Regions from separate parts of the Homo sapiens genome. Here region 2 is linked to region 1. The links come from fine-mapping of genetic effects on plasma protein levels. A gene starts in region 1. The other region holds a variant in brackets. All regions are shown on one strand. Distances are from middle to middle.

Region 1 (5,393 bases):
GTGGTGTTCCATAGACCATGTGAAGCAGGTATTTCCAAATGGAAGGGGAAAGTCATGAAATTTTTCTGAGTATTCAGTTTTGACCAATGGATTTGATTAGATTGAAGAAGGCATTGGTGACTGTTACAAGAGGGGTTTAAGCGTAGTGTTGGGAATGAAAAAATGAATTAAAGTAGAGATTGTAGATAACATTGGAGTCATCGTATTATAAAATGAGAAGTGAATTAGATTACTAGAAAGAGATTTGGGTTCTATGAACAATTTTTGAGCTTTTGTTGTTGCTCTTCATGATGAAAGATGTTTGGTATGTTTGCATATTGGTGGAAATAATTTGGAAAATGGAGAAATTAATGATACAGGTGAGAAGGAATAATTGAAAGAGCAAAATCCTTGCACAGAAAAGATGGGATCAAATCTGGTAGAGACCATAACAAGATAGGAGTAAAGATCAACATCCAGTGAAGCAAGAGACAATGCAGAAAAGGATGCGTGTGAACAGCAGGTAGTTTTCTTCTGATTGATTCTATATCTAGATGAAAAAATAAATGAAGTCATTAGCAAAGCACAAAGTGAGGATTGGTGGTTAAGGAGGGAGATAATGAAAACAGGAGAGGGGAAAAGCAGTGTGGAAATTATTTAGGACCGTGTTCATTAATTTAAAGCAAGGCAAGTCAGCACAGTTGCCTTTGTTTTTCTTGTAGACACACTCTGCTGCTTCAATTCAGGCACAGGGCAGGTAGAGAATTTATTTGCAAAGGATTGAGGTTTTCTAAGACTTGGATTACAGATAGAAAGGAACGAATGGGCAGGAGAGTGTGTGCAAGGGACTGACTGACAGTGATGAGCCATGGAATCTAATTTAGATGTGGTGGGAAGAGAGAAAATGAAGGGAAGAGAATAGTGAAAAAGTGTCAGGGTCATTGAATGTTTGGAACAAATTTAGTAGAGTAAGTGAGCTAAAAAGATTGTTGAAATGGTCTAGAGTGTGATGCTTAATATTTAGATACTTTAGGTAGTGTAGTAATTGGAAATGACAAGGTTTAGATAGACTAGAATCAATAGTGGAGACTACTAATAGCTCACAGGGACTTCTCTGGTTTCTTGATTGGACATAGCTATGTGCATTCCCATTGACTTCTGAACCACCATAAGTAAGTTTCCTCTTAGTGAGATCATTAGGCTGTTTCTGTAAATTTCCCCATTAAATGTTAAATTTCTCTCAGGCTGGGCACTTTGTTGCTTGCTTCAGCTAGTATCCTCTAGTCTTCTCTGATTGTTTCCCACTGTAATCTCTTTGTATTCAATAGGATCCTCGGGCATGGACCTTTCCAAGCTATAAAGTCACTCTTCTCCAGCAGGGGAGCAGAGCTTCCAGTCCACATAGCCTGCCTGCCCATCCAGGGTTCAACTTCTGAGCCACGGAATTGGGCTGCGAGACAGAGGTGGATGAAAGCATCCGCTCTCTTTTACTGAATTTTATGGAGACTTTCTGGAAAAAATATTTCCCAACATTATGCTGTTTGGCCAATTTCCAGAGACAACCAATGGTTACTTTTAAATTTTTATCCAGTTTTATTGCTGCCTTTTGGTTGGGAGTGAATATACCAAGACCCTCACATAGCCATTCTCGAAGTCCCACCTGAACAAAATGATTTTGAATTATAATTCTGTTCTTCAAACATTTCAGGAAACGTTACTTGGCAAAAATTATTCTTTTTTTTTTTTTTTTTTTTTTTGAGACAGAGTCTCGCTCTGTCGCCCAGGCTGGAGTGCAGTGGCGCGATCTCCACTCACGGCAAGCTCTGCCTCCCGGTTTTACGCCATTCTCCTGCCTCAGCCTCCCGAGTAGCTGGGACTACAGGCGCCCGCCACCACGCCTGGCTAAATTTTTTTTGTATTTTTCAGTAGAGACGGGTTTCACCGTGTTAGCCAGGATGGTCTCGATCTCCTGACCTTGTGATCCACCCGCCTCGGCCTCCCAAAGTGCTGGGATTACAGGCTTGAGCCATTGCGCCCGGCCAGCAAAAATAATTCTTGATTAGACCTTTTATAGTTTATGAAATATTAAAACTGTTAAGAAGGTACCTAATTCTTAGTGCCAGTTTTAAAAGGGAATTTACAACTACAAAAGTGATATTGTTGTATTAAGATGAGGACTGATGACTTGCACTTGCTTGCCTTTTGAAACAGCTGAACCCTTGGCTAGAAAAAAAAAAAAAACCCAGGGGGCCGGCGGTGGGGAGCTTCCTCTCTCCTCTAAACAGTCCATTTCTGATTGTTCCAAACTCAGAGACTCGGTGACTACAACAAGGAAATTGAACAGCAGTTATTTTGCTTAAATAAATATTACATAACGAGCTGAGAATATTATTGTGAAGACACTGATTAGATACTATTTGCTTATTTCACACAACCCTCCATGAACTTTGATGTTTTCCACAAAGGGCTTTACTAAACTAGCTTCCCCTTAGTACATTGAAATTCAAAGTCATGCTTGTAACTGTTAATGAAAGCAGATTTAAAGCAACACCACCATCACTGGAGTATTTTTAGTTATATACGATTGAGACTACCAAGCATGTTGCTCTTATTCAGTGTAATCCTAATCTCATGGGTATCCACTGTTGGGGGAGAAGGTAAGTTGAAAACAGATCCGAATATTTTAGTTCCTTTTCAAATGTATTTATTGATTGTGTGTGTGTATGCATACAAATATTTTTAAATGAATAAATAGCTGAGGATAATTTGAAGGGGTATCACAATATTCATCTATTTTCTGGAAATATTTTCCAACATGCAATTAGCAGGAAAATTGAATGAAATTAATTCTCTCCGTTCTCTAGTTTGCTAAGGGTAAATGGTCACCAAATAGATAATGTAAAGAGAAATCAAAGGAGAGAAAATCTGCTATAATAAAGATGACAAGGTGAAATATTAGTGTAATTCTGCATAAACTCTGCAATGCCACTGACTAGAAAAATCAACCCCAAAAGATTTGGCCACCTTCATTATGTTTTGAGAATTTTATTTTCATAGATTTGATAATTTACATTTTAAATGTTATTAAAATGAAGGAATTCTCATTTCAGCCTAATTATCATTCAACAGGGAAATATATTTTAATGAAACAATAGAAAATATTATTTTTATATATAAACCAGTGAACTGCCAAAAAATTGTTTCTTCTGAGCTCTTCCACAAATTTCAAAAGTGAAATAATATATCACTTCTTTATTAATACTATAAACTGATTCTTATAACATTATAAACTATCCCATTTTATTTCATGTGGAAATTAAAGCCACTATATCAAAAGGATTGCAAACAAAATCTCTAACAAGGTCTAGGATACTGATTAAACTATGTGTGTACGTGAAGTTTCAATCATTGTGCTATATACTCTTTGATTTCCAGAAAGTTTTTATTTTACTGCTTTACTGCTTTCTAATGTTTACAGATCTTTAAATTTTTTGAACACTTTCTTCTCAGTCCTGACATAAGAGAAAAATATGAACCATAAAATGCTTTCTTTTTAAGATATGCCCTTACAAATGTTGCAAAACATTATTTCTATGGGCCTAAAATTCATTTTATTTTGTTTTCACTTTTAGTACTGAGCTATAATCACAAGAGTGCGATTGCATGAGTGTATTTGATTTTTCTTAAGTCTGTGTTTATGATATTTATTAAGTGGCTTAAACATCTGTTACAAATGGCATTACACAAGGATTTCTAAAGGGGGGTGGAAGCAGAGGAAGATAAGTGAAAATTATGAGGATAATATGTAGAATTTTGACAATTCCTAACCCCACAAAACTTTCAAGCTTCAGTCCAGTCCCAGGATAAACTTTAGTGAAATTCTATTAAAAGTTGTCTAGGTGTTAAATGACCTGTAAGTGTGCATTACACTTTTGTTTTGGTGTCTATTTAGAAACTGGCCAAACAGCAGAAATAACAGACGAAAGCAACACTTTTGTACAAATAGAAAACTGCATGCTTCCAGTAGCAAAACATGAATCAAGCAATATATTGTGCTTCATGCTGTAGCAAAGAAGCTGGAAAGAATATGACAACGCCACCCACCCCTCACTACTACTTAGAGTGTCCTAAAAGAAAAGCAAAATGTAAATAGGCAAATAAATTGCAAGGTTTTATATATAGGTAATTGTCTGTGTGTGTGTGTGTGTGTGTGTGTGTGTGTACACTCATACATCACTTAATGATAGGAAAACGTTCTGAGAAGTGTGTCTATAGGCAATTTCGTCCTCCTGCAAACATCATAGAGTGTACTTACACAAACCTAGATTGTATAGCCTACTACCTAACTAAGCTATACGGCCTGTCACTCCTAGACTGCAAACCTGTACAGCATGTTACTGTACTGAATACTGTGGGCAACTGTAGCACAAATGTAAGAATGTGTTTACCTAAACATATAAAAGGTACAATAAAAATACAATATAAAATATTAAGAATGGCAGACTTGTATAGGGCTCTTACCGTCAATAGGGTTTGCAGGACTGAAAGTTGTTCTGGGTAAGTCACTGAGTGAGTGGTGTGCAAATATGAAGGCTTAGCACATTACCATACACTACTGTAAACTTCATGAACACTGAATACTTGAGCTAGGTAAATTTATTTTATTTATATATTTATTTCAATATTTTGGGGGGAGCAGGTGGTTTTTGGTTACATGGATAAGTTCTTTAGTGCTAATTACTGAGCTTCTGGTGCACCCAGGATAGACTAAATTTATTTTTAAAACTTTTCTTCAATAATAAATTAATTTATGATAAGCTTTCTACTTTATCAACTGAAAATCTTTTAACTTGTAACTCTTTTGTTTTAGCTTAAAACACACCTTGTATAGATGTACAAAATATTTTTTCTTTCTATCCTTATTCTGTAAGATTTTTATCTTTTAAATTATTTATTTATTTACCTTCTACACCTTTTTGTTAAAAGCAGACACAAACACACACATTAACCTCGGCCTACGGAGGGTCAGGATCATCAGTATCACTGTCTTCCTCCTCACTCTTGTTCCACTAGAAGGTCTTTAGGGCAGTAACATGCATGGAGCTGTCCTCTCCTATGATAACAAAGCCTTCTTCTGGAATAGTTCCTGAAGGACCCGCCTGAGGATGTTTTACAGTTATTTTTTTTTAATAAGTAGAAGAAGTGAACTATAAAATAATGATAACAACTATAGTACATTAAATACATTAACCAGTACCATGGTCATTTATTATCATTATCAAGTATTGTGTACTATACATAATTGTGTGTGCTATTGTTTATATGACTGGCAATGCTGTAAGTTTGTTTATACCAGCACTGCCACAAACATGTGAGTAATACATTGGATTATGATGTTGTGGTGGTCATCAGTT
Region 2 (5,393 bases), 640 kb before region 1:
GGAAATAAAGTTCGTTGGCTAAGAGATAAAATTATAGGGTAAAATTTTGTAAATTTAGAAGTTGGTAATCTCTACAATTACTCAACATCTCTTTCGTTTTTCTAGAAATAAGAAAAAATCTTTTACCTCTCAATTTTTTAAGAAGTGTAAAGAAAGAATTTCAGTCGCACTCCAAAACACTGTTTCCTGTGAAGACACTGGTTGCCAAACCTATCCCTGTTCCCATCCTAGATTCCAAATACATTTGAGGACTTTGACCATTAATGTCTTTGAAGAGTAGATTTGGTTTTGTGGGTACACCAACCTTTCTTACAGTATTTTTTTAAGTGTGAGAAATTTAAACAAAGAATATTTTCAAGCTTCAATGACACTGAAGTTCTTCTTAGTTCAACATTACTTGAATTTACATTTTATGAAAGACACTGGAAGAAATGTCAGAGATTATGCTGCCAATGCCACTACTACCCGTAATATGACTAATAGTAATTAATACTAATTGAACGCTTACTCTACACAAAACATTGTTTTTGTATAAACACTTTTTCTCCATTATCTCAATTAATCACTAATAGCTTTCTGAAGTAGTAATTACACTCAGTTTACAGGTAAATAAATTATTGGCTAGTTTTTTTTTTTTTTTTTAAGACAGAGTCTCACTCTGTCGCCCTGGCTGGACTGCAGTGGCAGGATCTTAGCTTACTGCAACCTCCACCTCCTGCGTTCAAGTGATTCTCCTGTCTCAGCCTTCCAAGTAGGTAGGATTGCAGGCGCGCACCACCACTCCTAGCTAATTTTTATATTTTTAGTAAAGTTTGAGACCAGCCACACCACGTTGGTCAGGCTTGTCTCAAACTCCTGACCTCAAATGATCCTGCCATCTCGGCCTTCCAAAGTGCTGGGATTACAAGTGTGAGCCACTGTGCCCAGCTGCAAGTTTTTTTTTTTTTTTGTTTGTTTGTTTAATTAAAGTCACTTGTACACAACCAATATAAAGTGGAACTGGCATGGCAAGCAATGTCCTTAGTACTCCACAGTCAAGCCTGTGGACTGCTGTGTTTTCCTGAAGAATGACAATTTAATATGTGGAATAAGACATGCAAACAAACTCTACTGCAAGCTACAATGTGATTAATACTATATAGATTGGCGTTCTATTATTATGGAAGCCTAGAAAAGGGAAACAGTACTCCTTTTATTCATACATTTAAAATAATTAATGAATAGTGTATGAAAGTGCTGAACACTGAGATAAGTAAGGAAAGCTTAATGGAAGGGGCTGTGTTTTCATTTCATTGAATAATTGATTGAACTTCAATATGGATGTGCAATAAAGTAAATTCAAAGTATAAAGTACAATATACTATAAAAACCATACAATTATGAAAATGAAGCTTATATCTTGGGAACACTGATTTTTTTTTCCTTGAGGATAAAAGATAATTAAGAGCAAAATGAGACTGGAAATATATGTTGAAGCCAGAAACTTGAGGGCTTATAATGCTCTGCAGTCAAAAGAGATACTGGCTACTAGCAGTGCGTTTTGGTAGAAGTATATAGGAATGATTCTAGGATGTTCAGAAGGAAAGATCATTAGCTCCTTACCTATTGGGAAGGTATGTAAAGAAAATACTTAAGGACATTAGCACAAAACCCAGTAATCTTACACCTTAGAGTATCTGAACATACTCTAAGTTTGAAGACATTTCTTCATCTGGTGTAGTTTCATCTTCTGATTGGTCACTTAGAAGATCACATGTTTGAATCGATGATGTATCTGCAACCTCTAAAACAGGAGCAATGCTAGGTCTTCTTATTTCTTTGCTTCCCTCTGTAGGAAGAGACAGGGTAGGGCCACTTGCTGATCTACAGCTTGTATCTTGCAAGTCTATAGCCACAGTACCTAAAACAATAAAACATGAAAATTTATCAAGGCGTTTGCCATATTGATCACTAGTGTTGAAGGTTACATGAAATATGAAATATAATAAACACAATAAATATATATATAGAGAGAGTATATATTTATGCGTGTGGTGTATAAGTTTAGTTCTGATAGCTAAATATTTCTTTTGCACACAGGCATTTTCCTGGACAAGAAAATCTCTATTTGCACAAAAGTGTATTTGCAGAGTGTTGTTCTATGGCACAAAACATAAGATTTGTAAAATCCTGAAGTATATAGAAACTTAAAGTGAAAAAGTATACCCTGATGTTTCAATTTATATTTATTTAAAATTTATTCTTTTGTTGTTGACCATGTCCATTTTGTGAATTTTTCATTATGTGTTTCCCCTCTTTGCTTTTTCTTTTATTTCTTTCTTTCTTTCTTTTTTTTTTTTAAGACAGAGTCTCGCTCCAGGCTGGAGTGCAGTGGCACAATCTCGGCTCACTGCAAACTCCTCCTCCCAGGTTCAAGCGCCCCCTTTTCTATTGAGCTATCTTTTTGTAATTGATTTATGACCACTTTTTAAAATATCGGAACTACTAATATGTTATACTTATTTTGTATTAAATGAATATTTATTGAGTGCCACATATGGGGAGCACTGTTCCAGGTACTTGAGATCTGTAGAGAAGACAAACAAAGTTTCTACAAGA[T/C]GAAACCTGTATGTAGCAAGTAGACAAATAAATGGATAATTGTAGACAATAATCAGTAGCATGCAGGGAGAGGAATGGAATTTTTATTTGATAGGAGAGAAGGCCACTGTGAAGTTAGGACATTCGATTTTTGACCTGAAATACAATAAGGAGCACACAAGTCATGGAAGTACCTGGAGGCAGTAAGAATGGCAAGCCCAAGCCCAAGTGGCTTAAGGTTATTGAATACTTGAGGCATTCAAGGAATAGAAGGCAGAAGAAGCAATTCCCTTTGTGAATTTTATTGAAATGTAAAAATTAATTTTAATATCTATTTATGAAAAATTGAGGTTCCTCTCCTTCTGGAGAAAATAACGATGAAAGGCATCATATTTCATAATTACTTATTTCATTTATGTACTCAGTGGCACCTGGTCATCCTTCTAAAAGTTGCTAGTCTTTGCTTTGTCCCATTCTTTGAAACAATTACAGTCATGCATTGCTTAAAAAGGGGGATATGTTCTGAGAAATCTACCATTTGGTGATTTCTTAGATATTCAAACATCATACTTACACAAACCTAGATGAGGTAGCCTACTATCCTAGGCTATATGGTACATAGGCTATATGGTATAGCCTACTGCTATATGGTATAGGTATAGCCTACTGCCCCTAGGCTATATGGTATAGCCTACTGCTCCTAGACTACAAATCTGTACAGCATGTTACTGTACTGATTGGTGTAGTCAATTCTAACACAATGGTAATCTCAATATAGAAAACATACAGTAAAAACATGGTATTACAATCTTATTGGGACCACCATTGTATATGCTATCCATCATTGACTGAATTTATGCAGCGCATGACTATTTAAAATTCTACTTTCCTCAAACCTCTGGCCTTCCAAGCTTCTTCCTCATTATAATAACATGAACTGAAGAAATTTTTACCTTATCTCAGCCCTTCACTTCCATAGTGATTTTTTAGACCTTGTTATAACCAATAAAAACAATGTTGCACACATTTTTATGCATTCACCCTTTGATCACCACTATTTCTTGTTTGTTCAGGTCACTCTCACTGATTTCCTAACACTAGCTATGATTTTACCATGCTGGAACTTCAATTCTACTGATGATACCAGAGTTTGTCTCTCTCATTCCCTTGATGCTCTCTCTTCTCTTCTTAACTATCTTAAATTCCATGTTTAAGCATTATGATTATTTTCTTGCATATACCCCTGGATCCCTTGATACATTTTTGCTTCATTCCACCCTCTTGACAAAATAGAACCCTGCTTAAGTTAAACTCTCCATGTTCCCCATATCTATACCTATGCAACTGAATACACCCAGACAGTTTAGCTCTTGCATCATTAATAGTCTCTCCACATTGTCTGTCCTGATTTTTGGCAGTTTCACCATACACATAGATGATCCTTCCAACATTCCAGACTCAACTCCTTGTCCTCTTCTCTAGTAATGGCTTTTTCTACTATCACTCTTCAGTCCTTCACTCTCATGGCCACACCTTAGCTTTTGTAATTATTACTTGCTGCACATCATCTCTCCTTCTGGCATCTCACTCTTTGACACCTGTACCTTGGCTTTCCAGCTCTTTCCCTCTTGATTTTCACTGGAATTAGAATCGATTAATCCACTCTCCTTTCAGTCTTTTCTAACCAAAATACATCTTTTCACTTCCTTACTTAAATTAAGTTCCATGGCCTATAATTATATACAATCTATTATACAAACCCTCAATCTCTCTGCCTTCCTTACTTGCTTGTACTTTCAACACAAGCTACAAATCCATTTCTTTTCTCCGTTTTGCAGTCAGACGTTTTAAGAACTGTCCAGACCTACTGTTTCTAATTTATCTTCTACCATTCTTTCCCAAACGTAGTCCAATCTAGCATTGTCCACCACCACTCCATTGAAACAGCTCTTATGAGGGTGAACAATGATCATTGCATTGCTAAAGTCAATTGACACTTCTCAGTCCTTATGTTACGACCTATCAGTACTTGGCTTTCAGCCATGACCTATCAGACATGGCTTTACATGGTGTTGTCTTAATGCACTTAGCTCACTTGGATTCCAGGACACCTCACTCATTGGGTTTTCCTACTAGCCTGCCAGTAGCTCCTCTTTGGTCTCCTTTGCTGGTTTCTTCTCATCCCCCTGATACTTAATCTTAGTATACTGCAGAGCTTTGTCTTTTATTTTTTCCTGCCTGTACTCATTTCCTCAAAGACTTCATTTGGTCTTATGGCTTTAAATATATACATAAGATCAGAAATACAAAATTTACTTTTTCAGCCTATCTCTCTCTCTCTCCTGAAATCTAGACTCTTACATACAACTTCCTGTTAGACATCTTCAAGGTGTTCCAAAATACTCTTTATCTTCCCTTCACCCCCGCAAAACCTGCATTCCCCCTAGCCTTTCCTCTAAATTTATGGCCATTCTCTTTCCCTAGTTGCTTAATCCGAAAACCTTATGTTTCTTCACACTTCTCTTTTTCTCACAGTTCAATTTCATTTTGTAAGGAATCCTGATTATCCTCAAAGTACATGCAGAATTTTCTCCTTCTTACCACTTCCACTTGAAAATAGTCTGATCCTTGCTCCAAACCATCTATGTTCAACAGCAGCCTGAGTTGAGCACTCAGCATAGGTGAGATCAGGTCAATGGCTCTGCATAAAGCCTTGCAATAATTCCCACTTCACTGAGAGTAGAAGCTGCAATCCCATATGGACTTAAATAAGCCCAACAGGATCTGGCCTCTTTCTACCTGTTCGTCCTCATCTC

What was found. PIP is the chance, under the fine-mapping model, that this variant and not a neighbour inherited with it causes the effect. Sun 2018 read protein levels with aptamers (SomaScan).
Region 2: its variant is fine-mapped to the plasma level of the CFHR5 protein (Sun 2018, PIP 0.95).

Annotation. Positions count from the first base shown.
Region 1 is chr1:196,975,087-196,980,479 of GRCh38, forward strand. CFHR5 (complement factor H related 5) reads left to right here and starts at 2,470. Exons shown (of 10, transcript NM_030787.4): 1 at 2,470-2,636. The coding sequence starts at 2,579.
Region 2 is chr1:196,332,161-196,337,553 of GRCh38, forward strand. It overlaps KCNT2 (potassium sodium-activated channel subfamily T member 2), which reads right to left. Exons shown (of 28, transcript NM_198503.5): 17 at 1,687-1,900. Among named protein-coding and RNA genes, the nearest start is that of LINC01724, 250 kb to the left of the region's middle. The variant T/C (reference allele first, on the strand shown) is at 2,599.